Linked DNA regions of Homo sapiens. The protein of the gene in region 3 purifies or fractionates together with the protein of the main gene of each other region. This does not show direct contact. Each region holds a gene or a part of one and is shown on either strand. Other genes may lie near its edges.

Region 1 (7,528 bases), on a different chromosome or scaffold from region 3:
CACCCAGTCCTGTTCGCTGAGGGCCCTTTAAACCAATGTTTAATGTGCAGCTACTGCCTGGGTCATATTCGCTTCTGTCTGGGATATAGGACTCTGACAGTGATGGGTGCTGCTCTGAGACTGCTCCTCCCAAGGCTACTTCTTCACAACATACTCCTGGAGGCTCTACCTTCTTTCTCTCCATGATTTCACAATTTTCCCTGCCTGTTATGGACACCTTGACCCTTGGGGATTCTGTCCTCACATTCCCTCTCTCCCAACTGGTTTTGGGGTCCAACACTGGTGGGAAATCAAAACTGGGTCCCCACACTAACTCTTCTCTCTCCTTTTCACATGACCAGGGAAACGACTCAGGGTAGAAGGGGAGTCATTTGCCCTGTCCTTTCCCTAGGTCAATGCTGCTTGTCTTTAAAGGTACCTGTGTTAGGAGAGAGCCCTGGATGAGGACTAGGCATACCTGATTCTGCCCCTAAATGGCAGAGTGATCTTCAGAAGTCATTTCTTTGACTCTCAGTTTCTTTTCCTGTACAATGAGGATAATGAAACTGGCTCTGCCTGCCACCTCAGTTGCTGTGAGCATCAAAGGGCGTCAAGGTTTTGCAAGCTTTACCGCATCTGGGTCATTGGTGGTGGCAGGCTCTTAATGGTCAGGTCCTGTTTGTAAATTCATACAGTCCTCCACACCCTGCTGCCCTGCAGGAGATGCTTGGGAGAGGTATTCAGAGGCTAAGGCTTTCTCCTATCCATACCCTCTGTTCCAGCCACACCAAACCTTCCACTATTTCCTGAACTGCCTCGTAGCCTCCTGCCTCCGTACCTCTCTCTGCTTACCTGGTTTCTTTTGCTTAGAATGCCTTCTCCTGGCTGAAATTCTACCTCTACGTCAAGGCTCAGGCCTACCTCTAGCACAAAGCCTCCCTGCATTGTCCCAGATGTGCTCAATCTTTCTCCCTAAACCTTGTAGCATTGCTTGTAGTATAATCACAATCTAGTTATTATTCTTTCACCTACGCTCCCGAATTCCTTGGTGACAGGGCTCTGACCTACTCATCTTTGCAGCAATCCTCCCTTACCCCTGACAGTGGTGGAAGTTCAGGAAATACTGTTGCCTGGAAGGTGTTTTCTGCAGAGATTAGTGATCCATGTACAGAAGGTGCCAGGGAGAATTACTCAGTTTGGAGAGCAGCTCAGATCAAGCTGCCTAGCCTTATGCCAGCTGTCCTTCGCCTCCTCTGTCCTGGGTTATCTCAGAACTGCTCTCTACACTAAGTGTCTACCTGACAGGCATAGTAGAGAGGCTTAATATCACCTGAACTCAGCTTAGAAAAAGCCAAATAAAAAGGAAAATGGAGTCATGTTTGAGTCTCTCAGCCTAAGCCCCGCCTAACTACTTTCCTTTGCATCTGATCGCATACAGAGCCAGTAGTGAGTTCTCTGCTCCTGGGGAAGGAAGATGGCAGGCCTCAGCTACTGCTCAAGTTGGGTAGTGTTTTGAGAACCTCAGCTTCAGCAGTTTCAAAAGTGGCAGCTGCTTTGTGGGCCTGCCCTCTTTGGGCAAGACTTCCACTTAGGTCCATCCTCAGGTCTGGGTGGGGGAGGAGCATCGGGAAGGTGCAGATTAAGAGGTTGTGGAGGAAGGGAGAGGGTGCCAGGAAGTGAAAAGTCATTGGTACAACGGGCTAGAAAGGGCTTAATATAGGGAAGAAGTGGGGCAGGGAAGGGGGAGGGAGAAGCAGAAGGTGAAATGTGCTGGAGTCCTCCTAGTTATCCAATAGGACAGATGTTGAGGAAGGCCAGGGATGGAGTCTGGCCCAGTCTCACAAGAGGGGCCAACAGTGGCCCAGCAGACAGGCCCAGTTTGGTGGGGGGATTGTCTTGGGGGTATGGGGAGAAGGGCTACTTTGAGATAGGGTCAAAGGCTGGGTGGGAAAAGGGTTACAGGTTAGGAACAAGGTCTAGGTTTTGACTAGGCCATGTCCAAGGTTGGATGGTAGTTAAGAGAGGAAACCAGGAAAATAAGACGTCCATGCCTAGTTGGAAAGTAGAGGCACCAAGATGCCAGCTTCTGAGGAGCCAGCTGACTGGGATGGTTCCAGAAAGTGATGTGAAAAACTGGGCTCTAAGAGATCATTGTTTTTGAGGCAGGGGCAAGGGCCAGGTGTGGGGGATCTAGGTGAGCACATAAGGTGCCATAGATTCCAGTGAGACAGGAGTCAGAGTCTAGGGATGGGTCTGGATGGTAGAAAGGGCCCTGCGGTGGGCTGAGGCAGGGTTCCTAACAGGGAATGACACGAAATTGTACCATTCAGTAAGTTGTGAGGACCAGTATCCATCAGGTATACATGATGGGGCTGATCTGCCTGGGCCCAACAGGCTCAGAACAATCAGTGCCCGAGTCGCAGTGGGGGACGGGCTGACAGCGTTCCCAGCCGCGGCATGATGCACAGGGAGGGAAGTGTCAGGGTCCGGGTCGGGAGCAGAAGCAAGTTCCTATTGGGGAAGGTATCATACCCTGGTCGGGGGTCGGTGCCCAGATCCCGGGGTAGGAAATGCCAGCCCCGGAATGTGGGCCCGAGACAGAGGGAACGGTGGTGATCAGGGCTGGGAAGAGTCAGTGTCCGGGGAGAGGTGTCTGTCCCGCCTAGGAAGGGTCCATGTCGGCCGTGTTCGGTATGGGGGTGGAAAGTGCCCGGTTTTCCCGCTGACCCTACCTTGCCGCGGGCGCAGCGTACGGAGCGCAGGGCGCCGAAGAAGATGGGCAGCAGCGCCATGAGCAGGAGGCTGCCGTAGGCCAGCGCGATGCCCTCGGGCGTGGAAGGCGGCCGCGTAGTGCTGTTGGTGGGGCCGCCTGCCTCGGCACTGCCGTTATGCGGATCGCTGAGGGCCGAGTCCATGGCGAGGGTGCGTTCGGGATCCGACTCCAGCTCCGGTTGCTGCAGCAGGGACGCAGGCGGAGACACCGGCTCTGCAGGGAAAGCCACGTTCCCCTAAGGCAACAGGAAGTGACGTGCTCCCTCCCAAGCCCGCGCCGCGCACGCGCGCACACACGCTTGCACGCACGCGCGCGCGCGTGCACGTCTCCCCGCCCGCTCGCCCTCTAGCGGTGGCCGAGGGCCGGGCGGCGGGTTGCTAAGCAACTTGTTAGCGGTCCGGACAGGGGCTCTGGGCCACTGCGGTGGGCATGCGACCCGAATGCCCATTTCCCAGTCCCAGCCGGTCTCCTCAATCCCCTGCTGTCCACTCTCCGCAAATCCTCATATTCCGAATAACTAAGAATGTGTTTATTCATACATGCATTTATTGGGTATCCAATTGTTTATTCACTCCTTAAATATTTATTGAATGTCCCTCAATATGCCAACAACTGACCTAGGCTCTGGGGACACTGAGGTGAACAATACAGGCAAAAGTTCCTCCTTGCCTTCGTGAAGTTTGCATTTTAGTGCAGTGTGTGTGGGGGGACGTTGGGAAGACAATAAAGAAACTGAACAAAATAAAAGTCTGTAAAATGGGCTGGGCGCAGTGGCTCACGCCTGTAATCCCAGCACTCTAGGAGGCCGAGGCGGGTGGATCACCTGACGTCACGAGTTCGAGACCAGCCTGACCAATATGGTGAAACCCCGTCTGCACTAAAAATACAAACAATTAGCCGGGCGTGGTGGCACGCACCTGTAATCCCAGCTACTCGGGAGGCTGAGGCAGGAGAATCGCCTGAACCCGGGAGGCGGAGGTTGCAGTGAGCCAAGACTGAGCCATTGCACTCCAGCCTGGGCAACAAGAGCGAAACTCCGTCTGAAAAAAAAAAAAAAAAAAAAAAAAAAAAAGGCCAGGCGCGGTGGCTCACGCCTGTAATCCCAGCACTTTGGGAGGCCGAGGTGGGCAGATTGCGAGGTCAGGAGATCGAGACCATCCTGGCTAACACGGTGAAACCCCGTCTGTACTAAAAATATAAAAAATTAGCCGGGCGTGGTGGCGGGCGCCTACAATCCCAGCTACTTGGGAGGCTGAGGCAGGAGACTGGCTTGAACCTGGGAGGCGGAGGTTGCAGTGAGCCCACTGCACTCCAGCCTGGGCGACAGAGTGAGACTCTGTCTCAAAAAAAAAAAAAAAAAAAACAAGAAAAATTTGTAATTTGTAAAACGTTAATGTATAGTTATGTGTTACATAGCATGTTAATGCAGATAAATAGAGAAAAATAAAGCAAAAGAAAGTAAGGTGTGTGTGGAGTTTGCAAATGTATTGAGAGCCTACTATGTGCCAGGCAATTATAATACCTTACGAGTTCATGCCCCTGTACAATTTATAAAGCTTTGTGGCTCTTTTCAGAATTTGAAGAATCTGTTTATTTATGTGATTCTTATTTTTGATATTGTTAAAAAAGTTAAAAATATATATTTTCTTAGACATGGGGTTTTGCCATGTTGGCCAGGCTGGTCTCAAACTCCTAGGTTCAAGTGATCCTCCTGCCTCAGCCTCCTAAAGTGTTGGGATTACAGGTATGAGCCACTGCTTGCAGCCTACTGTGGCTATATTAGATACTGGAACATCTAAGCATCACTGTGTGACTGTGCAAACAAAAAACTTCAAGGAGGGCCTATTATTATTATTATTATTATTATTATTTTGAGACAGGGTCTCACTCTGTCACCCAGGCTGGAGTGCAGTGGCATGATCACAGCTCACTGCAGCCTCTACCTTCTGGGCTTGGGTGATTCTCCCACCTCAGCCTCCCCAGTAGCTGGGACCACAGGTGTGTGCCACCACGCCCGGCTAACTTTTTGTGTTTTTAGTAGAGATGGGGTTTCGGCATGTTGCCCAGGCTGGTCTCAAACTCCTGGGCTCAAGCAATCTGCCCACTTCGGCCTCCCAAAGTTCTGCAATTATAGGCATGAGCTGCCACCTCCCGCAAGAGTGCCTATTTTATTTTATTTTATTTATTTTTTATTTTTTTTTTTGAGATGGAGTCTTGCTATGTCACCCAGGCTGGAGTGCAGTGGCACGATTTCGGCTCACTGCAACCTCCAGCTTCCGGGTTCACGCCATTCTCCTGCCTCAGCCTCCCGAGTAGCTAGGACTACACGCACCCGCCACCACGCTCGGCTAATTTTTGGTATTTTTAGTAGAGTCAGGGTTTCACCGTGTTAGCCAGGATGGTCTCGATCTCCTGACCTCGTGATCCGCCCGCCTCGGCCTCCCAAAGTGCTGGGATTACAGGCATGAGCCACCGCGCCCGGCCAAGAGTGCCTATTTTAAAAAAGATTTCTATGTGTTGAGGCAGTTGTTTACTGCAGAATTAAGCCCACTTTAGGCTTACTACCAGCTTCTATCTAAAAATATTGACTGATAACCGAAAGTGTTCTAAAGGTGGTTATTCTGATCTATAGTTTTTTTGTTTGTTGTGAGACTGAGTTTTGCTCTTTTTGCTCAGGCTGGAGTGCAATGGCGCAATCTCGGCTCACCACAACCTCTGCCTCCCTGGTTCAAGCGATTCTCCTGCCTCAGCCTCCCGAGTAGCTGGGATTACAGGCATGCGTCACCACGCCCAGTTAATTTTGTATTTTCAGTAGAGATGGGGTTTCTCCATGTTGGTCAGGCTGGTCTCGAACGCCTGACCTCAGTGATCCACTCGCCTCGGCCTCCCAAAGTGCTAGGATTACAGGCGTGAACCACTGCGCCTAGCCTCTGATCTATAGTTTTTTAAAAAAGTATTTACAGAAAGTATAGAAGTTTTTGTGAATTTAATACAAGTTAGCCTCCAATTTTCTCTTCTCAAATGTTTGATTTATAGTTTTTGCTCCTTTACATATTTGCTTTTTTAATTTCAAGATTTGTAATTTTACCTTCAAAACAGTTCATTTTTAAAATTGTAAAGCATGTTTAACATACGCAGAAATAGGCTGGGTATGGTGGTTCACGCCTGTAATCCCAGCATGCTGGGAGGCCGAGGTGGGTGGATCGTGTGAGCCCAGGAGTTAGAGACCAGCCCGGGCAACATAGCAAGACCACATCTAAAAAATAAATAAATAAATAAAAAAAAGTCAGTATTTTGAAATTATTTGAGCTCAATGCAGTTCTACTCTTTGGAAGCAGATTAGCTAACTGAATCTGGTGCTCTTGTTGAATAGAAATAGGTGATGGGAAATGTCTATCATTTGACTTTATAAGGATAAGCAAGATTTACCATGATGCTTTGATTTGGGGGTGGATTCCAGTCCATCATTGCCCTGGCACATGTCAATTAGTACACACAAAATTCAATGTCAAATCCAGAGCCTCAGAGGAAAAAATTTATTCCCCAAGAGAACAATGATAACATAACAAAGTAAAATGTTATCTAGATTATATTGGTATTAAAATTATCTCTTATATAAAGTATATTGACTGTAACTATACATAGAAGATTCATAGTAACACCTGGAAGTTCCTTCTCATGTTATATATAAATTGAATTATGAAAGCTTTTTATATTACCTGTTTATGGCCTTATAGATTTAATGTACCAAATGAAAACTTCCCACTCTACCTCTAGATAAGATAAAATCTATATTTATTTTCAAGGTAGAGTTTTAAGTGGCCATATTTCTTAAGCCGTATTCAAAGGAAAATTTTATTTCAAGGCACATTTTCACTCTGTCACCCAGGCTGGAACACAATGGCATGATCACAGCTCACTGCAGCCTTGACCTCCTGGGCTCAAGCGACCCTCCCACTTCAGCCTCCCGAGTAGCTGGGACTATAGGCATATACCACCATGCCCAGCTAATTTTTCCATTTTTTATAGAGATGGGGTTTCACCATGTTGCCCAGGCTGGTCTTGAATTCCTGGGCTCAAGCGATCTGCTCACCTTGGCCTCCCAAAGTGCTGGGATTACAGGCATGACTACCATGCCTGGCCACTCAAGGAAATTGTGTCTTAACTAAGTTTGAATGCTGTTCCTCTTCATTTTGTATATGAAACTTCAGCTGATTTAATATTGACATTCATCATCTAGTCAAACCCTTCACATGTTCTTCAAACCAACCAAATTTGGGGTTCTTGACATTTTCTGTGTCAATAAAATTAGATGTGGATCTTATCTTTTTTTTTGAGATGGCGTTTTGTTCTGTCACCCAGGCTGGAGTGCAGTAGTGTGATCTTGGCTCACTGCAACCTCTGTGTCCCGGGCTCAAGCAATTTTCCTGCCTCAGCCTCCTGAGTAGCTGGGACAACAGGCACCCGCCATCACGCCCGGCTAATTTTTGTGTTTTTAGTAGAGATGGGGTTTCACCATGTTGGTCAGGCTGGTCTCAAACTCCTGACCTCGTGATCTGCCCGTCTCGGCCTTCCAAAGTGCTGGGATTACAGGCGTGAGCCACCACGCCCAACCAAGATGTGGATCTTATATTTTATTTTGAGATGGAGTCTCGTTCTTTCGCCCAGGCTGGAGTGCAGTGGCATGATCTCAGCTCACTGCAAGTTCCGCCTCCCGGGTTCATGCCATTCTCCTGCCTCAGCCTCCCAAGTAGCTGGGACTACAGGCACCCGCCA
Region 2 (7,805 bases), on a different chromosome or scaffold from region 3:
GGGTGCTGATTGGTGTGTTTACAAACCTTGAGCTAGATACAGAGTGCCGATTGGTGTATTTACAATCCCTGAGCTAGACATAAAAGTTCTCCAAGGCCCCACCAGAGCAGCTAGATACAGAGTGTGGATTGGTGCACTCACAAACCTTGAGCTAAACACAGGGTGCTGATTGGTGTGTTTACAAACCTTGAGCTAGATACAGAGTGCCGACTGGTGTATTTACAATCCCTGAGCTAGACATAAAGGTTCTCCAAGGCCCCACCAGAGTAGCTAGATACAGAGTGTGGATTGGTGCACTCACAAACCTTGAGCTAAACACAGGGTGCTGATTGGTGTGAGCCCAGCTGCCTTCACCTAGTGGATCCCGCACCGGGGCTGCAGGTGGAGCTGCCTGCCAGTCCTGCGCCGTGCGCTCGCATTCCTCAGCCCTTGGGTGGTCGATGGGACTGGGCGCCGTGGAGCAGGAGGTGGTGCTCGTCGGGGAGGCTCCGGCCGCACAGGAACCAATGGAGTGGGTGGGAGGCTCAGGCATGGGGGCTGCAGGTCCCGGAGCCCTGCCCCGCGGGAAGGCAGCTAAGGCCCGGCGAGAAATCGAGCACAGCGCCGGTGGGCCGGCACTGCTGGGGGACCCAGTACACCTCCGCAGCCACTGGCCCGGGTGCTAAGTCCCTCATTGCCCGGGGCCAGCAGGGCTGGCTGGCTACTCCAAGTGCGGGGCCCGCCAAGCCCACGCCCACCCGGAACTCCAGCTGGCCCGCAAGAGCCGCACGCAGCCCCGGTTCCCGCTCTCGCCTCTCCCTGCACACCTCCCTGCAAGCTGAGGGAGTGGGCTCCAGCCTTGGCCAGCCCAGAAAGGGGCTCCCACAGTGCAGTGGGGGGCTGAAGGGCTCCTCAAATGCCACCAAAGTGGGAGCCCAGGCAGGGGAGGCGCCGAGAGCAAGCCAGGGCTCTGAGGACTGCCAGCACGTTGTAACCTCTCAGTATGACTTAAATTGTGTGGGTATTTCAAATAATTGAAAGTTTTTGGACAAAAGAATATGTAATGTCTAAAGCACTGTTTTTAGAAAATTATTTTGGTAGTTGTTTAGAAGGAATTAATGCACAAAACCATCATAATGATTCAAGTTTGAAATGAAAAAATAATTCATAAGGTTTAGAAACTGATGAATTTATTTAGAAATACCCGGTTTGGGCCGGGCGCGGTGGCTCACGCTTGTAATCCCAGCATTTTGGGAGGGCAAGGTGGGCGGATCACGAGGTCAGGAGTTCGAGACCAGCCTGACCAACATGGCGAAACCCCGTCTCTGCTAAAAATACAAAAAAATTGGCCAGGCCTGGTGGCACATGCCTGTAGTCCCAGCTACTCGGGAGGCTGAGGCAGAAGACTCGCTTGAACCCGGGAGGCAGAGGTTACGGTGAGCCGAGATCATGCCACTGCACTCCAGCCTGGGCGACAGAGTGAGACTCGTCTCAAAAAAAAAAAAAAAAAAAAAAAGAAATACCCGGTTTGGGCCGGGCGCGGTGGCTCACGCCTATAATCCCAGCACTTCCGGAGGCCGAGGCTGGTGGATCACCTGAGGTCAGGAGTTCAAGACCAGCCTGGCCAACATGGTTAAAATCTGTCTCTACTAAAAAATACAAAAATTAGCCAGGTGTGGTGGCAGGTGCCTTAATCCCAGCTATTTGGGAGGCAGAGGCAGGAGAATCGTTTGAATCCGGGAGGCAGAGGTTGCAGTGAGTCGAGATTGAGCCATTGCACTCAAGCCTGGGGGACAAGAGCGAGACTTCTCTTAAAAAAAAAAAAGGAAACAAAAAAAAAAGAAATACCTGGTTTGAGGCCGGGCGCGGTGGCTCACGCCTGTAATCCTAGCACTCTGGGAAGCTGAGGTGGGTGGATCACCTGAGGTCAGGAGTTCGAGACCAGCCTGGCCAACGTGGTGAAACCCCGTCTCTACTAAAAATACAAAAATTAGCTGGGTGTGGTGGCATGCGCCTGTAATCCCAGCTATTCGGGAGACTGGGGCAGGAGAATTGCTTGAACTTGGGAGGCGGAGAGCTGAGACTGTGCCACTGCACTCCAGCCTGCGGAGAGCTGAGACTGTGCCACTGCACTCCAGCCTGGGCAACAGAGTGAGACTCCATCTCAAAAAAAAAATTTTTTTTTAAATTCCCGGTTTGAAATTGAAAATCAGAAATAAAATTAGGTCAGGCCCATTTATTTATTTATCTATTTATTTATTTATTTCCTGAGATGGAGTCTCGCTCTGTTGCCCAGGCTGGAGTGCAGTGGTGCCATCTCGGCTCATTGCAACCTCCACCTCCCGGGTTCAAGCAATTCTCTTGCCTCAGCCTCCCGAGCAGCTGGGATTACAGGCATGTGTCACCACGCCTGGCTAATTTTTGTACTTTTAGTAGAGATGGGATTTCACCATGTTGGCCAGGCGGTCTCAAACTCCTGACCTCGTGATCTGCCCGCCTCGGCCTCCCAAAGTGATGGGATTACAGGTGTGAGCCAACACGCCCAGCCATTCAGGCCTAGTTATTTAGATTTGGGTGTTGCTTATTGAATCTTTGAATATGGAGGAAAAGTTATGAGATAAAAAGAATAAAAATAGAGACTATTCAAAGGCTATGCATGGGACTGGGCACTGTGGCTCATGCCTGTAATACCAGCACTTTGGGAGGCCAAGGTGGGTGGATCAGCAGGTCAAGAGATCAAGACCATCCTGGCCAACATGGTGAAACCCCATCTCTACTAAAAATACAAAAATTAGCTGGGCGTGGTGGTGCACATCTGTAGTCCCAGCTACTCGGGAGGCTGAAGCAGGAGAATCGCTTGAACCTGGGAGGCAGAGGTTGCAGTGAGCCAAGATTGCACCACTGCACTCCAGCATGGCGACAGCGAGACTCCATCTAAGAAAAAAAAAACAAAACTAAACCAAAGGCTATGCATGAGACAAAGTGAACAGTTTATTACTGTGATTATAATAAAATGTTGAATTTATATAGGGTAAAATCTTGATAGAATGCTTGAATTATATAGGTATTATGGGAAATACAATGTTATGGTTAATTGAAGAATAATACAAAATTTTGTTTTAACTTTTGCTCGCTGGGTTTTTTTCCCCCCCCAAAAATTATACTTTTTTTCCTCTTGATAATTAGGAAACACAGATAAATTATTTTTAGATGATTCAAGATGCCACTATCCTTCAAGTTGATTATTGTAAAATACGTGTTTTCAATGTAAAATAACACAGTTATGGAGTTTGGGATATAGCCATGGTAACGACAGAACATACCCTGGTGTTTTAAGATTAGGGAAAGTCGGATAACATCAAAACAATTCTAAGAAAAAATTTTAAGTATTTTTCAGGCTCTATTAATTAAGAAGTACTTCAGTGCTTTTTTTTCTTTTTTTTTTCCAACACTACAAAGGCTAAAGATGTTATTATCAAATGTATTACTACATCATTGGCACAGTTTCTATTGGTATCTACTTGCTTTTTAATACGGAAGATGTTTATGATTTACACTCCTCCTACTTTAGAAATTCTCTCCATTCACTTCTTTTGTGCCCCTCCAGATATAATCTGAACTTCCAGGAATAGATCATTCTTGGTGTTACAAATGTTGGCTTCCCCCCTCCCTGGAATTCTATTAGAATGTTTCTGTCACTTTAGAAGCTTTCTTATTCTGGTGTAACATGCCAAGAAACCCAGGTATAAAATAGTGATTGTTGAATCTTACTTTGACACGTGTGCCCGTCCTTATAAATCTAGACCCTGTACATTACATGCATACAACTATCCCTATGGATCTACTAGTAAATAATCTCACAGACTCCACCTGAGGCTTCTGGAAAAAAAAACAATTACCTTAAATTTTATTAAGAGCTCTTCGTAACCTACTGAGCAAGATCAGTGAATCCTAAAAAGATTCAGTCCCCGGTTCCCAAAGCGCTTCCCCGCCCCGTGTTTCTGAACAGCTGGAGAGGACAAACCTCCGCTAAGAAGCGGAGGCCGCCAGTGCTCATCACACGCAGGAATTAGGATATCTGGCTTGAGAACACCTATGCTGTACCACATTCTTCTCTCCCCCTACCCCGCCTGAAATAAAACATAGTGAAGCGTAAATCTTGAGTCCCTTGGTACCTTCTCAGAAACGGCGGCGAGGAGGCTTCAGAGGGGCTTCCTGGGCGGGGATCCAGACGGTCGCGCGGGTATTCAGCACTCTGGGCGGGACAGTCCCTGTCCCGAAGGGAGGGCCCAGGAGGGGTGGAGCCGTCCCCGCCCGAACACGGGGGCATCCGCGCTCCCCGTAGGGTACCCCGCGTGCTGGCTCCGAAGCGGTGGCCGTCGGGGTGGCGCTCTTCCTCCGCTCTTTGGGGTCCCGGCGCCCCTCAGGGCAGGGCGGGAGACCGCTGAGGAGGCACCCTCAAGTTCACCTCAGGCTCATGACACCAGCCCCGCCGCGGTTCCCCCTGACCGGCTTTCCGCTGGCCCTGGCGGCTGCGGAACGGTCAACTAGACCCCACTAGCTGAAGCCGGCATCACCTGGGAAGCAGCCATGCCGCCCGGAGGCCACACCCGGGGGAGGAGCCTGCGGACGCCCAGTCGGGTGGAGCACGCCAGGTGAGCACGCCTGCGCAGTCGGGCCGTAAACAAGCCCACCCCTTCCCTTTGGCCCGCCCTCGCAGGGCTGGCCCGCGGGTGGGAGGGGCGAGAAGGAAGAGGCAGGGGGTGGGGGAAGAGGGAGCACCAGGAACAGCGCCTGCGCGGTGGGCGTGATCCGGGCACTTAGGGCAGGATGAACGCTGCTTTCCAAGATGGCGACGGAGGGAGGAGGGAAGGAGATGAACGAGATTAAGACCCAATTCACCACCCGGGAAGGTCTGTACAAGCTGCTGCCGCACTCGGAGTACAGCCGGCCCAACCGGGTGCCCTTCAACTCGCAGGGATCCAACCCTGTCCGCGTCTCCTTCGTAAACCTCAACGACCAGTCTGGCAACGGCGACCGCCTCTGCTTCAATGTGGGCCGGGAGCTGTACTTCTATATCTACAAGGGGGTCCGCAAGGTACCGACCCGGGCGTCACCGGAGCCAGCCAGCGGCGTAGGCAGAGGCCGGGAGCAGGGCGGTGACAGTGGGGCCAGGGTGACCGAGAGGGGTGGCCGTCGCTCTTACTTTTGAGTGGGCCGGTAACTCCACTGGGGTACTCCTGAGGAGAGGGGATTCAGGAGTAAGGAGGGTGGTGGCGGTGGCGTTTCGAAGGGGTGGGGGCAGTGGAAAGGGACCGTGGGGCGCGGGGGTTCTGGCTGGGAGGCTCCCGGGGGAGCCGGCTGCGTCCCCTCCAGCCTGGTCCATCAGGCTCTGACATGGCCAGGGAGCGGGCCTGCGAGTCCCCGGAAGAGGTGAGGTGGCCGTCTTGTCTGCTTCGATTGCCTCGCCTCCCTGGAGGGTTGGAAGTCTCGCCCTGGGTTAGAGAACAGGGACGCAAGACGGCTTAACAAGATCTCTGTAAGGCGGAACCGGGGCCGGGAAGCGGAGCATTGAGACTAGGTCAGAAAGAACCTGCTCGGCACGCAGGGCTACTCCACCTGCTGCCGCACTGACACTTCCTAGGAGCCTCTCCTGGTGTTAACATTTCTATTTCCAAAAACATCCGCGGGAGGACGGCTGTCACTGTCTCCGCCGTGGGGACCTTCTGAAAGATTGTTAAGGAGAGTCATCTTGTCCCTTGTAGTATGCGAAGGGCTGAGTACTACAGTTGAAATGATGTTTCCAGTGAACTAAGCTGGTTCAGAGGGGTTGTGTGAGAGTGCCCAGATTAATCTTGTCCAACAAGTCAGACTGTGTCCCAAACAGGGAGTGATATGCTTTAAAAGCTGCTTTAAAGGGACCATCCTTCTTGGCGGGCGAGTTACCGGTAATTCTGTGAAACATGTAAGCATCCTTTAAAAGTATCTCTTTAAAAGCAGCCATTTATTAGAGTTTTTCTTTCATTGGCTATGTAACTATGTTTTCACTGAGAATTGCTTATTTTTGAGATTGTAGTCTTTGACTTGATGTCATGGAAGAGTGAGGAAATTAATGCATCCCACAGCACCTCCAAATAGGACAAGGTGATAAAAGATTAAGTCGTAAATGCATGTTAGCATGAAAATAAATTGTTCATATTGAAGAGTGAACATTCTTCAGGATTTAATATAGCCAGATCCAGTACAGGATTTTCGCTTGTTACAAGAGCTAGGGAAATGACAGTGGTATCTAAATGTAGCAAAGTTGTTTCTTTGATTCAGGGTGAATCTTTTTTTCTTAGTCTTTATGATAATAAGTGTACCACTGTATTTAGGGTATGCTGTTGGAAGTTATTAAGGGTAAATCGCTTGACCTTTTTTTTTTCCTCGTTTGGAATTGCAAAAGCTCGAAGTAGTCTTCAGTCTAGGGGCTGAAGTTTTACTCCTACTCCCAACTTTGTCACTGACTTGTTTGGGTGACCTTGGATAAGTTATTTAACTTCTATTTGCACCTCTTTAAAAAGGGAATGTTACAGTGCACGTTGTAATTAATAATATAATAATCATAATGAACTTTAAGGCCCTGAAACACTCAGTAGATGTAAAATATAGTTAAATACTGACTGTCAAATAAGAAGCTGCTGTCTTGACATTGATAATCAGAGTGAAAGGACCAATTTTGTCTCAGGAAATTAAGTTTAGAATTTTAAGTTATAAAAATTTATATTTATATAAAAATACGATGTGCTTAAAAACTAAATTCACTAACTAGCAATTATTAATGTAGGAATTACTTAAAAATTTTTTTTTCTTTGAAATGTTATGACTTCTGAAGCATCCTAATGGCAGACCTTATCTGGATCTGGTAGCCCTGTTTTACATCATAAAGACAGGTTTCTTGCCTGGAAGTATCATTACAATAGTGTTCTCTTTTAGTGGGACGCTATTCCCTGAAGGGTAAAAGGAGGCAAGGTTTTTAAAACCACACCAAAAAATTATTTTAAACAAGATAAATGTGAAATACGTAAATTGCCCTTACCTGCATAATTTGAGTGTTTTAACGCTTTTTGGGTAAAATTTCATTTTCATGTGGTAGTATCTTGTAGATACATTTGCATTGTGTTGCAGATGTTTCTACTCTCTTTTAATTGTAACTTAAACATTTTTTTCCATGAATGAGTTGGCATTTATTTGTTGTTATTTCTGAGTATAAGTGACTTTTTATGACTATTTTCTGATTTAAAATATAGGAAATACATTTTCCTTAATTGGAAAACCAAAATTTACTTTTTAGAGTTAGTAGTTACAAACATATTTTTGACAGTTGGCTATTAAACATGTTTTTGTTTTTGTTTTTAGAGACAGGATCTCATCCTGTTGCCTAGGCTGGAGTGCGGTGGCGTGCTCATCGTTCACTACAGCCTCAAACTCCTGGGCTCAAATGATCTTCCCACTTCAGCCTTCCTAGTGGCTGGAACTACAGGTGTGCACCACCCTGGCTAATTAAAAAAAAAAATGTTTTTTAGAGATGGAGGTCTTGCCGTGTTGCCCAGGCTGGTCTTGAACTCCTGGCCTCAAGCGATCCTCCCACCTCAGCCTGCTAAAGTGCTGAGATTATAGGTGTGACCCACCATGCCCAGCGCACAGTTGGCTGTTTTGACTTTTTTTTTTTTTTTTTTTTTTTGGTCCTTTGAGGCGTGTAAAATTTTACAATAATTATTTGGATTATTCAGAAGATCTAATTTAGATGAGTAAATTCAACTTAAGTCTGTGTGTAAAATGAGTAG
Region 3 (7,019 bases):
TAAATTCAATAAATATTCAATAAATGCAATAAAGGTTGTATAATATTCAATACATTCAATAAAAGTTGAGCTGAGAATGGTATTTACAGTTGTACAATATCTTATAGTTTATAAATTGTCATTACTGCTGAAGTTTCTCAGGGTAGGTTTCTTTTTTTTTTTTCTTTTCTGAGACAGAGCCTCACTCGGCTGCCCAGGCTGGAGTGCAGTGGCATGATCTTGGCTCACTGCAAAGTCCACCTCTCGGGTTCAAGCAATTCTCCTGCCTCAGCCTCCCGAGTAGCTGTGACTACAGGCGTGCACCACCATGTCCCGCTAATTTTTTGTATTTAGTAGAGATGGGGTTTCACCATGTTGACCAGGCTGATCTCGAACTCCTGACCTCAGATGATCCACCTGCCTTGGCCTCCCAAAATGCTGGGATTACAGGTGTGAGCCACCACACCCGGCCCACCAGGGTATGTTTCTGTTGCTTAACACCAGAGACTCTGGTTGGTACCTTGAGCTCTTAAGGTCTCCTCCAGCTCTGACAGTCTATCCTCTTTAAGAGGAACATTCCTCTTACTATGCAAACTCATATCAACCTCAGCTTTTACAACTCAACCAAAGAGAAGAGCAATCATCTCGCTTTGAGGTGGTTCATCACCAAACCAGGCCCTATCTCCTCCTGCTTTTTCTGTCCTTTGATCTATTCCTTAAAGCCAACAGCCAGCCCACCCATGAGTCGACCTAGCCTAGTGTGACCTCACAGAGCTACCTACTTGACTAGACTTACAATTTCCAGAGGCAGATAGATTCCTGCTAACTAGGCCGAATCTGAGTTCAGTATGACATGTTCGTACAATATTTTGTAGTTTGAAAACTTAAACTATCTTTTTTCTGCTATGTCACTGATCCTTGCAACAATCCTGAGATAAACAGGGCAAGCATAAGGACCCTGATGCTCACAGAAGTGATGTGCTGTAGGTTCTAGAGATGATAAATAAGATGACCATATGACGGGAGAAAGTGTGGGAAGGAGAATGTACACTGGGCTAGGAGTCACGAAGCACAGGCACTATGTTCCAGCCCTGCCACTCATTAGTAGCTTGACCTCTTGCAAGTCTACCTGTCTGGATCCAGTTTCTTCATCTGTACAACAAGGATGCTGGATGTATTAGTTAGTGCAGGCTGCCATAACAGAATATCATAGATTGGGTGGCTTAAACAACAGAAAGTTATTTTCTTACAGTTCTGGAAGGCTGGAAGTCCTGGATCAGGATGCCAGCATGGTCAAGTTCTGTAAGGGCTCTCTTCCTGGCTTGCAGACAGCCACCTTCTCACTGTGTCCTCACATGGAAGCAGGAGAGAGAGATAGTATCTTTCTTCCTCTTTTTATAAGGGTACAGTACTATCAGATTAGGGACCGACCCTTATGACATCATTTATCCTTTATTATCTCCTAAAGACCCTATCTCCTGATAAGTCACATTGGGGGTTAGGGCTTCAACATATACATATATTTTTTGGAGGGGAAACAACTCAGTCCACTGTATTGGATATGATCTTTGGAGTTCCTTCCACCTGTTAGCACAAGTCTGGAACACTGAAGATACAGTAGTCTATGGAATTAGTAATTCTACCTTGCCTCCTTTTGAGAAACTACACAAGGCTTATTTCTAGACTATTCGTAGGGAACATTTTGGAGATCATCTGTGTAAACACTTTCCCATCCCTAGGGCAATTAACAAGCCAAAGGTAATCTCTGGCCAAATCAGGTCTCTCCCAAAGTTGGGGCCTTAAAGTTTTTCAGAAAGCATGTATTTTAACTGTCACTTTTAGCCTTTGGGTATGGCATGCAATTTCTGCTACTGCATTTAGAAAGAACATAATGATGACTGTCAATTGGAGGTGGGTTTTAAATCACAAGTCTCCAGCTAAATTTTCTAAGAGCCATGAAGATTACTGAGCAATTGTGGCCTTTCAGCAAAGCACAAAGTACCTTGTCAGTCCTACTTTATGCAGCACCTGCGAGTGCTGTCTTAGAGTGGCTTTATGGTCAGAAGCAGGCTCTGGTGGGGAGAGCTGGCCCTTTGCAGGTCAAATATAATTCCCTCCAGTCATAATCAAATATTTCAGATTTCTCCAGAAATATTAATTATTTTTGGTTTGATATACTTATTGTCAAAGGCCGACAAGTACTTTGAGCACTTAAATTACAATGCCCCCCACAAAAAAATACCCCAAGGATGATTTTAACAGTCACAGGATGTGTTATTGCATACTTTAAGCTCTTAAATACAATGCCAAAAAAAAAAAAACCCAAGAATGACTTTTTCTTTTCTTTTCTTTTCTTTTCTTTTTTTTTTTTTTTTTGAGACGCAGCCTTGCTCTGTCACCCAGGCTGGAGTGCAATGGCGCAATCTCGGCTCATTGCAACCTCCGCCTCCAGGGTTCAAGTGATTCTCCTGCCTCAGCCTCCCGAGTACAGGCATGTGCCACCACACCAGTTAATTTTTTGTATTTTTAGTAGAGACGGGGTTTCTCCATGTTGGCCAGGCTGGTCTCAAACTCCTGACCTTAGGTGATCCGCCCTCCTTGGCCTCCCAAAGTGCTGAGATTATAGGCGTGAACCACCGCACCCAGCCCCAAGGATGATTTTAACAGTCCCAGAATGTGCTGTTGCATCTAGACCCGAGGCCTTCAGGAGTAAGAAGATGGTCTGCATTTCTGTAATTTGTTTACATCTCCTTATTTATGATATAATCTACAACTGCTTATAGAGTCTAAATTTTCCTTGTCTGTGTAATTTCAAACCCAAATTTACCTTTCATGTATATTATAACCCAATCTTCATCTTCATTTGACCCAAATTATCTAAGTTCTGTATTCTTCAAACTAGAAAGATGCTGAGTTTTCTGTATTGATCCTATGGAGAACGGTTCTCAAATGGGGGTGACTTTGCACCCTAGGGGACATTTGGCAATTTCTGGAGACATTTTTGGTTGTCACCACTGGGGACGGGGGGTAATCGCGGTAGTACCGGTGGCATCTAGTGGGTAAGGGTCACGGATGCTGCTAAATATCCTACAATGCACAGGACTGCCCCTGCAACAAAGAGTCACCTGGCCCCATGTGTCAACAGTGTTGAAGTTGAGAAACTCTGCTACAGAATGTCAAGATGCAAAGCATATGGTCCTTTGTGGCTTCCAGGGTTGTGGGGTGGGAAGCTGTTATACTGGCAGCACAGCTCTGGCACTCTTCATGACCCCAGGGACACACACAGCAGATGCCGATGAAAACTTAGGCTGTCTTTGCCAGGCCAACTCACAACGCCAATAAAGGGGTTAATTTTTTTTTTTTTTTTTAAGTAGGCAGCCCTTCCTTTGATTTTCATCCAACTTCAATGCCCTCTTCACCAGGGCAGGAAGGAGAAAGCAAGCAGGACTAGAACACAGTGGCTCCAGAGCAGGCCTATAGCAAGGTCTGAAGGGTTGATAGATTTGATACTCACAGCTTTACAGCTCATTTTATTCTGAGAGTAGAGAGTATAGAAAAAACTTCTAAACACTTCTTAAAAATTCTAACAGCTTTATAGGTTGGTAGGATTTCAAGCTACTTTTTAAAAGCATTAAATTATTCCCTGTGCTCTCATTATTTTAATTATTTCTATATATCCCTCCTCGTTCCAAGAAGGTTCTGACATGGGTAACTCTCCCTGTGGTGTTGACTTAATTATCCCGTATCAAGCTTACATGAGCTCCAGGACTGATCAATACAGGTTTCAATTTAGGAGGAAAAAGGATTTTGGAAGGGCCAAGTAAAACCATAATGTTTTGGCAGTTAAAAGATATGAGTTAAATTCCCACTATGTGTAAAGTTATAGTGCTAAATGCTGAGGAAGATATTTTTTAAAAGTATAAATCACAGCTGGTGCCCTTAAGTAATTCATACTCTGTCTGAGAGAGACAGGCTCCATGCCCAAGGGAGGCTGTCTTCTGCTACAAAGCAGGCTGTGCTTGGTGGCTCCTGGGCAGGGGCACCCCTCGGCATTCTTCCCTCCTCTGGCCAGGGAAGGAGGGGCAGAATAGGAAGAGGTGAGGGTGGTTGAGTGGGGAGTGCGCGGGACAAAGCCTCAGAAGTGGACGCACACTGGGGAGGGTCTGAGATATAAACAAACTAAACGAGAGCCAGATCTTAGAGGTCCTGATGGCTAGAGGGAGGCATTTGGGTTTTATTCTAAAGTTACAGGCATGTACACAGGAAGTTATATGATAAAAAAAAATAGCATTTGTTGGGTGCTTACCCTTTACTAAGCATACTATTTAATCCTCTGCCGTAGCTACTCTTCTCCCCATTTTACCGATGAGGACACTGAGGTACGAGGGTTAAATCACTTACTCAAAGCTACTCTAGCAAGTGCTAGAGCCAGGATTCACATCACAGGCAGAGCCCACACTCTTAACCACTTCAGACTGCCTCTTGATAGAACAGGAAGGATGACAGCAGAGGAGAGACCAGATAGACACGGACACCGCTAGGAAGGAGCTGCCGACAGACAGCATTTCAAAGAGTAGAGGAAGTCAATGGGGTCAGATGTTGCTGAGCCATCATGAACGAAATCTGAGAAACAGCCATTGGATTTATATTAGGCAATCACCGGTGACCTTTAAGAGTTCTGTTTCAGTAGAGGGGTGGGGGCAGGAGCTCCTTGCAGGGTATCAAGAAGGGCAGTGATAGAGCCTTGCATAGAAACTGACAGTTAAAAGACAGGGAGAAATGGGAGAGAAATTTCCAAGCTTTTCTTTTGAGACTGTGTCCCAAAACAATGGAACTTTTTCTTTGTTGAGGAATTGCAATATATTTCACCTTGTTCTTTTGTTTTGATGGGCAAAGCTAACAAATTTTAGGAGTCATGGTTAAAGGAGAATTAGTAACTGTCATAGAAATTGTTTTTTAAAAGCCCTGCATCAAATTCAGGTAAAGTACAAAGATTTGACTATTTCAAAGGAAACTGTCATGGGCAGAAGGTTAATTGGCCTTATGCATTGTATTGGCTGGAGAAAATGGCAATTGTGTAACCAGGGTGGGATGGTGTGAGGGAATTGTAGATAAAATAACTTGCTTCAGACCTGTTTTGAGCCAAGGGAAAGAAGCTGAAGCATTGCATGCATTACGGCTTGACAGTGAAATCTAGAGAACAGCTGCCTGGACTTCCAAAAACCTGGGCTGCAAAGGGCAAAAATACTTATTAAAATTCCTTGTTTTAATGAGTTCTGGGAATAGGAGTTATCAGCCTCTGTCCTAGCTACTAAGTAGTTTCTATTACAAATCAAAAGCAGTTTTAGGGAGGCTGTGTTTTTTGAAGGGGAAATCCTCTCCTGGCGGGTAATTCAGACTGCCTAGGGCAGCAATTAAAGCCATCCGGGAGGAGGAGAGGAGGCCTTTGTGGCTGAGGAGCAGTTTCTCCCAGGCTTCTTTCCATAACCATGAACTCCCTTTAGCATCCCAGTGTAGTCCATTCTAAAGTGTTCTGCAGATGAATCAGTCCTCAAAGTGCCTATGATTTTGCTACGGCCCAAGAACTACTGCAAACAATAGATGAATGAAAGATATATGTGGAGTCCTTCCTGGGACTGCTTACACCAAAGACATCTCAGGCTGTGATGCTTCTCAGACACATGGGGTAAGTGCTTTGGCAGTGAACTCTCAGACCCTGGCTCAAACAGGGATGACACCAACAGGTATTTAATGTTTAAAAAATGCAACAGGCTAATAATGCAGGCAGTGCAAGGATTCACCTGTCTGTGTAAAAAGCCAGTAGGAATGACCGTAGGCTCCTTTTCCTTTCTAGTGACTCAGGCCACTGGGAGAGTTGATGGATGGCTGAAGGAATCCAGAGTCTCCTTTGGAAGTTCTTCAAAAACATTATGCATTCCCATTACAAGGGAACCCACACAGATCTCTTCTCCATCCCAGGCCATCTCCCCACGTACCATTTGCTGCCTCGTCACACATCCCAACCCTCAGGTGACTTTTTCCCCATCTTTACAGGTTCCTCTCTTCCCAACACCGGCTCAAGAGTAAGCCAGATCTTTCCCGATTCTTCTCTACTTTCTTGCTGTTCCCCCAAACAACACATAAAGCTTTTGCATTTTAGAGGTTTCATTGCTCACTACAGAGAACAGTAAGGACTAACAAAAACAAAAAGTGTGGGAAGCTGGAAAGATTCAAGGATACCATAGTGATTTGTTGATTCTTTTTTCACAGTACCAGAGTTGGGGGAGTGAACAAAATACACAGAACCCCTGCCCTTTGGAGCATTCATTCCATGGGGGAGATGGGCAATACACTTAACAACTAATTAATATAGTAGGCTAGGAGGTGCTACGAATAAAAGCAAGACAGGGAGGAGGAAAGGATGCTGTGGGAGTGGGGATAGTTTTAAAGGAGTGGTTGGACTATGAGCAAAGCTGAAATGAGGCGAGGGACTATGAAGATACCTGTGGGAAGAGTATTCCAGGGGAGAGAACCATTAGTGCTAAGGGCCTGGGGCAGGGGGTACAGCAAGGAGGCCAGTGTGGATGGAGCAGAATAGGATGGGAGGCCAGAGAACTATGGGGCAGAAAGTGCTTCATCTTGCAGTCAGGGTGCAAAAGGCAATGAGCCCAGAGTTTGAGCTATGCTGACTTGGGCTCAAATCTTGGCTCTGCCCCTTAGGTCATATACCTTGGGCTCCCCCACTTCTTATCATATAAACAGTTGACCACAAAGGGTGGTCACTGCAATATGAGATGTGAAACTTCCTATCACAGGACACAGCACACGACAGCCATAGTAAGAAACAGAGACTGATGAAAATCAAGTATTTCAAAGTAATCTGTGAACTTTTGTGATTCAAGACTGTCGACAACTGAATAAAAATCTCATTTTAAAGAATACTAAATTAAGAAATACTTTAAGAAAAAACACATTTCATAATGAAGTAGCTTACAAGGTCGATCAAGGAAAAACAAATATCCCAGTTTTAGTGCCTTATT

What was found. Proteins that work in one complex are often made in the same cells at the same time.
Region 1: the proteins of TMEM266 (region 3) and HM13 purify together in Homo sapiens (affinity purification with mass spectrometry; 2 studies listed by BioGRID and IntAct, with this or other methods). This does not show direct contact.
Region 2: the proteins of TMEM266 (region 3) and WDR20 purify together in Homo sapiens (affinity purification with mass spectrometry; 2 studies listed by BioGRID and IntAct, with this or other methods). This does not show direct contact.

The regions. Positions count from the first base shown.
Region 1 is NC_000020.11:31,509,918-31,517,445, reverse strand, and holds the start of HM13 (signal peptide peptidase), read right to left. Parts: upstream 3,005-7,528; 5' UTR 2,895-3,004; coding exon 2,712-2,894; intron 1-2,711. UniProt on the Homo sapiens protein: Catalyzes intramembrane proteolysis of signal peptides that have been removed from precursors of secretory and membrane proteins, resulting in the release of the fragment from the ER membrane into the cytoplasm.
Region 2 is NC_000014.9:102,135,096-102,142,900, forward strand, and holds the start of WDR20 (WD repeat-containing protein 20), read left to right. Parts: upstream 1-4,801; 5' UTR 4,802-4,828; coding exon 4,829-5,077; coding exon of another isoform or gene 5,078-5,113; intron 5,114-7,805. Other genes in the region: HSP90AA1 (heat shock protein HSP 90-alpha), read right to left, coding at 4,155-4,309. UniProt on the Homo sapiens protein: Regulator of deubiquitinating complexes. Activates deubiquitinating activity of complexes containing USP12. Anchors at the base of the ubiquitin-contacting loop of USP12 and remotely modulates the catalytic center of the enzyme.
Region 3 is NC_000015.10:76,062,969-76,069,987, reverse strand, and holds part of TMEM266 (transmembrane protein 266), read right to left. Parts: intron 1-7,019. UniProt on the Homo sapiens protein: Voltage-sensor protein present on the post-synaptic side of glutamatergic mossy fibers and granule cells in the cerebellum. Despite the presence of a voltage-sensor segment, does not form a functional ion channel and its precise role remains unclear.